2 separate regions of the Homo sapiens genome follow, and region 2 is reported to be linked to region 1. Evidence: microRNA targets listed by miRTarBase, many of them from high-throughput screens and not tested one by one. Region 1 holds a microRNA gene; the other region holds the end of a gene's coding sequence.

Region 1 (3,410 bases):
TTAATAATTCTTGCATATGTTCCAGGAATACCTATGTGGATATATATGTATGTATGTGTGTATTTTTTTTAATGTGATATTTTTAAAATAGTGTCTTTTTTTTATTATTACTATTTTTTGCGACAGAGCCTTGCTCTGTCGCCCAGGCTGAAGTGCAGTGGCGCAGTCTCTGCTCACTGCAAGCTCTGCCTCCCTGGTTCAAACGATTTTCCTGCCTCAGCCTCCCGAGCAGCTGGGATTACAGGTGCCTACCACCAAGTGCGGCTAATTCTTATATTTCTAGTAGAGATGGGGTTTTGCCATGCTGGCCAGGTTGGTCTCACACTCCTGACCGCAGGTGATCTGCCTGCATTGGCCTCCCAAAATGTGATTACAGGCGTGAGCCACTGTGCCAGGCCAAAATAGGATCTTTATTTTCTAGAAATATGGGTAAGAATATTGATTTGTTTGCTTTTCAGTTCTATGTTGTACTAAAAATTTATTGATAAATGTATTCCTAAAGAGTAGAAAATTGAAATGCAGCCAGGCACGGTGGCTCACGCCTATAAACCCAGCACTTTGGGCGGCCAAGGCAGGCAGATCACGAAATCAGGAGTTCAAGACCAGCCTGGCCAACATGGTGAAACCTGGTCTCTACTAAACATACAAAAATTAGCCAGGCGCGGTAGTGGGCGCCTATAATCCCAGCTATTTAGGAGGCTGAGGCAGGAGAATTGCTTGACCCCTGGAGGCAGAGGTTACAGTGAGCTGAGATTGTGCCACTGTATTCCAGCCTGGGTGACAGAGACTTTGTTTTGGGGTTGGGGGCAGGGGTGGGAATTAAAATGCACCGTTCAGATCTTATATGCATCGCTGACAGGGAAACTTTTTTCAGGGTGAAGAAGGTGAATACAGTGAAGAGGAAAACTCCAAAGTGGAGCTGAAATCAGAAGCTAATGATGCTGTTAATTCTTCAACAAAAGAAGAGAAGGGAGAAGAAAAGCCTGACACCAAAAGCACTGTGACTGGAGAGAGGCAAAGTGGGGACGGACAGGTTAGTACATTCCACAGTCCTCCATTTTAGAGGCTGGAATAGAGATTCTTGAGGCTTGGAAGAGTAAGGATCCCTTTATCTGTCCTCTAGGAGAGCACAGAGCCTGTGGAGAACAAAGTGGGTAAAAAGGGCCCTAAGCATTTGGATGATGATGAAGATCGGAAGAATCCAGCATACATACCTCGGAAAGGGCTCTTCTTTGAGCATGATCTTCGAGGGCAAACTCAGGAGGAGGAAGTCAGGTAAAAGCCACTTGCTGCTGCTGCTGTCTAACATGTATTTTACACATGTAGGCCAGGTACTTCGATTTGCCTGTATTTCATTTATTACAGCATTTTAAGATAAGTATTATGATTATCCTTATCGTACAAATGAGGAAAGTAGGCTTAGAATATTTGGTAACTCTTGGTGAGGCAGCTAAGATACAGACCTAGGACAGTTTGTTTCCAGAACTCATCTTCTCTTAATTATTATACTTTTGCTTTTCTTAGTCTGAGGTGTAAGGCGTCTGAGAAGTGAAATACTTGCATAGGTTGCCTTTTAGGAGAAAGGAGATGTTTCAAAGGTACTGAATGGCATGAAATGAAGTCTTTTTCTCATTTCTGTGTCTGTTATATTTGAGCCCAGCAGGCCCTGAGGTTCTGTGATTCACGCTTGCTTTGGGGAGGCCTGTTTTTTATAATCTCTTTGGGATGATGAGGAGACTACGTAAAGTTCCTATTGTCCCCCTGCCTCCCTGACCCATTTTGTTCAAGAACATCTCTACTTGGAGAATTCTGCTGACCCAAGACACTTTTCCTTCATTTTATCCAGACCCAAGGGGCGTCAGCGAAAGCTATGGAAGGATGAGGGTCGCTGGGAGCATGACAAGTTCCGGGAAGATGAGCAGGCCCCAAAGTCCCGACAGGAGCTCATTGCTCTTTATGGTTATGACATTCGCTCAGCTCATAATCCTGATGACATCAAACCTCGAAGAATCCGGAAACCCCGGTGAGGACATTTTAGAACATAAGACCAGGCTGGGTATGGTGGCTTACGGTGGCTTACACCTGGAATCCCGGCACTTTGGGAGGCTGAGGCAGGAGGATTGCTTGAGGCCAGGAGTTCAAGACCAGCCTGGGGAACATAGTGAGACCCTGTCTCCAAAAAAAAAAAGAAAAAAAGGAAAAAAAAAATAGAGTGTAGACTCTTGATATCTTTTAGAAAGAATTCTCTTTGCTTTTCTTTTTATTTATTTATTTAAGACAGAGTCTCGCTGTGTTGCCTAGGCTGGAGTGCAATGGCATGTTCTCGGCTCACTGCAACCTCCACCTCTTGGGTTGAAGTGATTCTCCTGCTTCAGCCTCCTGAGTAGCCAGGATTACAGGCGCGTACTATCGCGATCGGCTAATTTTTGTATTTTTAGTAGAAATGAGGTTTCGCTATGTTGGCCAGGCTGGTCTTGAACTCCTGGCCTCAAGTGATCTGCCCGTCTCGATCTCCCAAAGTGCTGGGATTACAGGCCTGAGCCACCGCGCGTAGCCTCCTTTTGTTAATTTCCTAACAGTTTCTTCATTCCATTTTTTGTAGATATGGGAGTCCTCCACAAAGAGATCCAAACTGGAACGGTGAGCGGCTAAACAAGTCTCATCGCCACCAGGGTCTTGGGGGCACCCTACCACCAAGGACATTTATTAACAGGAATGCTGCAGGTACCGGCCGTATGTCTGCACCCAGGAATTATTCTCGATCTGGGGGCTTCAAGGAAGGTCGTGCTGGTTTTAGGCCTGTGGAAGCTGGTGGGCAGCATGGTGGCCGGTCTGGTGAGACTGTTAAGCATGAGATTAGTTACCGGTCACGGCGCCTAGAGCAGACTTCTGTGAGGGATCCATCTCCAGAAGCAGATGCTCCAGTGCTTGGCAGTCCTGAGAAGGAAGAGGCAGCCTCAGAGCCACCAGCTGCTGCTCCTGATGCTGCACCACCACCCCCTGATAGGCCCATTGAGAAGAAATCCTATTCCCGGGCAAGAAGAACTCGAACCAAAGTTGGAGATGCAGTCAAGCTTGCAGAGGAGGTGCCCCCTCCTCCTGAAGGACTGATTCCAGCACCTCCAGTCCCAGAAACCACCCCAACTCCACCTACTAAGACTGGGACCTGGGAAGCTCCGGTGGATTCTAGTACAAGTGGACTTGAGCAAGATGTGGCACAACTAAATATAGCAGAACAGAATTGGAGTCCGGGGCAGCCTTCTTTCCTGCAACCACGGGAACTTCGAGGTAGGTATCATAGGATTGGTGGCTAGCTTTTTCCCCTTTGCATCATCAGGTTTAGGGGCATGGGACTTCTGTCTCAGGAAGGTGGTGTCTGACAAATGTCTACTTCTTTTTTTTTGAGACAG
Region 2 (3,410 bases), not on the chromosome of region 1:
ACTGTTCCAAATTGAGGCAAGGGACCTTTGTTTTCCTACATCAGTCATTCTCAAGGTGAAGGGAGTGTGATTTTGCTCCCAAGGAGGTGTTTGGCTGTCACACTGGGAAGCAGGGGTGATGAGTGCCCACTGCAGCATTCATTAGAGGCCAGAGATGCTGTTTAGCATCTACAATACACAAGACAACCCTGCCCCACAACAAAGAACCATCCAGCTCAAATGTCCATAGTGCTGAGATTGAGAAACTCTGCCTACATCAAGGAGCCACTGGCCACGGGCTGCTCTTGCAAGGGTATGCCCTTGGGCAGATCCCAGCAGCTTAGGGCAATTCCCAGTGTGGCGTGTGGCTGTGAGCAGTCAGCAGCTCATGTTCCCAACAGATTGGAAATGGGTGTGTTTGCCATGGAGAGAGGATCTCAGCAGAGCAGAGTCACTCTCTGGCCCCTCAGACTGCTCTTTCTTATGTTATAAAAATAATGACCTACCATATTTAGGACCTGATATAGTTTGGATATTTGCTTTGCTCAAATCTCAGTGTTGAAATGTAATCCCCCATGTTGGAGGTGGGCCTTGGCAGGAGGTGATTGGATAATGGGGATGGATTTCTCATGAATGGTTTAGCACCGTCCTGTTGATGCTGTCCTCATGATAGTGAGCTCCCATGAGAGCAGGTTGTTTAAAAGTGTGTGGCAAAAAATATAAAAAATAAAAATAAAAAAGCATATAATAGGCCAGGCGCGGTGACTCACGCCTATAATCCCAGCACTTTGGGAGGCTGAGGCAGGCGGATTGCCCGAGCTCAGGAATTCAAGACCAGCCTGGGCAACATGGCAAAACACTGTTTCTACTAGAAATACAAAAAATTAGCTAAGCATGGTGGCACATGCTTGTAGTCCCTGCTACTCGGAGGCTGAGGCACCAGAACCTAGGAGGGGGAGGTTGCAGTGAGCCGAGATCGTGCCACTGCACTCCAGCCTGGGCGACAGAGCAATATTATCTAAATATATATATATATATATATTTAAATATATATATTCAAATGTATATATTTAAATATATATATTCTTTCTATATATAGATAGATATAGATCTCTATCTATAGAGAGAAACAAAAATAAAATAAATAGAAGTCTGTGGCACCTGCCTCAGTCTCTCTTGCTCCTGCTCTAGCCACGTAAGACATGTCTGCTTCTCCTTCGCCTTCTGCCATGATTGAAAGTTTCCTGAGACCTTCCCAGAAGTCAAATAGCTGTCAGCGCCTTGTTTCCTGTACAGCCTACAGGACTCTGAGCCAATAAAACCTCTTTTCTTTATAAATTACCCTGTCTCAAGTATTTCGTTATAGCAATGCAAGAATGACCTAATACAAGACTCTATCCTGTAGGCTTTACATATATTATCTCGTGTAAGCCTCATAAAAATCCCAAGAGGTAGTTTTCATCGCCCCATTTTATAGTATGGGAATCTGAGACTTAGAGAAGGTTAATCACTCACCTAAGATTACTGAGCTTGTCAGTTACAGGACCAGAATTTGAATCCAGGACTGTCAGCCTTCAATCTCTGGCTTTTTTGCAAATAGGAGGGACAACATTTGCTAAAACAAGAGCAACACTCATAGGAGAAGGAGGAGGATGAACTACAAGCTTAGCCTGGAATGAACATAGAGCCCAGGCTCAGAGCAGCACAAAGCCCTGAAACAATGTCTGATACTGTGCGAACATTCTAAGGCCAGACCTGAGCTCAGGATTCCTGGAGAGAAGCCTCCTGCCACCTTCCTATCCACAAATATTAATGGGTTATGAAAAATAAGCCCTCTCACCAGGAGGACTTTTCTTTTTTCCCTCCTCAAGGAGAATATATGGACCTTTAGACTTTATATGGTGACAGTAATTATAAAAAAGGGGAAAAAAAACCACTTTCTGGTAGTCAATTGTATAAAAATAATTTTATTTACTACTGTAAATAAAGTAGTGCAAAGAGTAGTTTGGACCCACAATATTGCATTACTGATTTATTCACTACCTTAGCAGCATGTAGTATACAGACATTCTGCTCTTCCTCTTCCTCTCTAACACACACACACACACACACACACACATATCCCTGTACAGACTCACGCAGGCATGAGGGGTAGGGATGAAACTATAAGCTAGAGGCTTACTTGCTGCATATTCCGTTGCTGCCAGTCTATTCTAACGTGTAATTCATGGAGAAGACTACAGTTAAGTACTAAGAATCTTCTAAATGTAATTTCATGGATTGCAATTGAAATGTAAAAGATATCCGACAATGCCATTAAATGATTCGGAAGCACTAGGACCCTAGAAAAATTCAAGGAGAAAAATGTAAACCAATTTACAAAGCTATTGCCCTCCCTGCATTTCCAGGCACAAACAATTTATTTCAAGGTGCCTTATAACTGCTAGGTCTTGGAAGTCAAAGAGAAATCTATCAATTCAGCTTTGAGGAACAGGGCTGTGGCAAGCACAGGTACCAAAATATTATCCACCTTGTAGAGTAGTCATAATTTTCTGTTCTTCAATAAAGGGATGAAGCACGCACTGTGATTCTTAAGACACATCTTAGTGTATAAGAATCCAGATCTGCCGTAGGGCATGCTATGACTCCTAATACATACAATCACTAGAACAAAAGTCTGTGATGGCCCAGTAAACTTCCCCACATGCCCTATGATCAAGATGTTCCTTGTATGTGTTTGATGACCTTTGGTATTACCACTGCCTGATCTGGGTACTTCCTTGTAATTTGACTTTAAAAAAAATGACACCAATTGCAAAATTTGCATCCAGTTGACAAGACATTTAAGGTGTTTATCAGGATCATGCCCTGGCCCCAGCTTCCCAATACCAGCTGTTGAAAAGATTCTCTCTCATCTGGAGAGAACTGGAGTGCACAGTTCACCCACGTGGCTCCGGGTTATTAGTTACTGTGGGCTGGTCTTGGTCAGAGGCATCTGCAGCTGGAGTCACAGCTGGACTTGCAGTGGACGTGGCAGTGTCTGGGGAGGCCTGGGATGGTCTTGGAGGGGGATCGCTTGCTGCAGAGACACATGCACAACAGGTGCTGAATACTCAAAACAGTGCATTCAGAATGTACAACCACACCTAGAGACTCTGGCAAGCCAGGAGAGATGCATCTAGTCTAATGAACCTGACACTAACTAGCCAGGCAACTCTGGACCCGTTATCTAAGTTTAAGAAGATGCCACCACATGCTGACAATCTGATTTCTAAATAAAAACCCTTCAAGAGTTTCACCTCCAAGTGCCGATGCTCATTCCTAAGGGGACATTCTAGGAAGTTTAAGAATGGGTCCCCAAACTTCTGGCTTTTCTGGATATATGCGGGAATTCTTCGGGCCCCTTCCAGTACCTACAGAAGAGGTCGTGG

The links. The annotated mature microRNA hsa-miR-6866-3p reads GAUCCCUUUAUCUGUCCUCUAG and lies in region 1 at 1,102-1,123, shown strand. An mRNA with a match to its seed (bases 2 to 7 or 8) in the 3' UTR can be bound and repressed. Matches are read on the target gene's strand: a 7mer-m8 pairs with bases 2 to 8, a 7mer-A1 pairs with bases 2 to 7 and ends in A, and an 8mer does both.
Region 2: miRTarBase lists SEL1L3 as a target of hsa-miR-6866-3p. Seed matches in the 3' UTR shown: 7mer-A1 at 2,099-2,105.

The regions. Positions count from the first base shown.
Region 1 is chr17:40,160,879-40,164,288 of GRCh38, forward strand. MIR6866 (microRNA 6866) reads left to right here and starts at 1,055; the gene lies at 1,055-1,123. CASC3 (CASC3 exon junction complex subunit) reads left to right here. Exons shown (of 14, transcript NM_007359.5): 4 at 875-1,033; 5 at 1,124-1,275; 6 at 1,847-2,023; 7 at 2,603-3,288.
Region 2 is chr4:25,745,507-25,748,916 of GRCh38, forward strand. It overlaps SEL1L3 (SEL1L family member 3), which reads right to left. Exons shown (of 24, transcript NM_015187.5): 24 at 1,927-3,058. The coding sequence ends at 2,919. Among named protein-coding and RNA genes, the nearest start is that of SLC34A2, 91 kb to the left of the region's middle.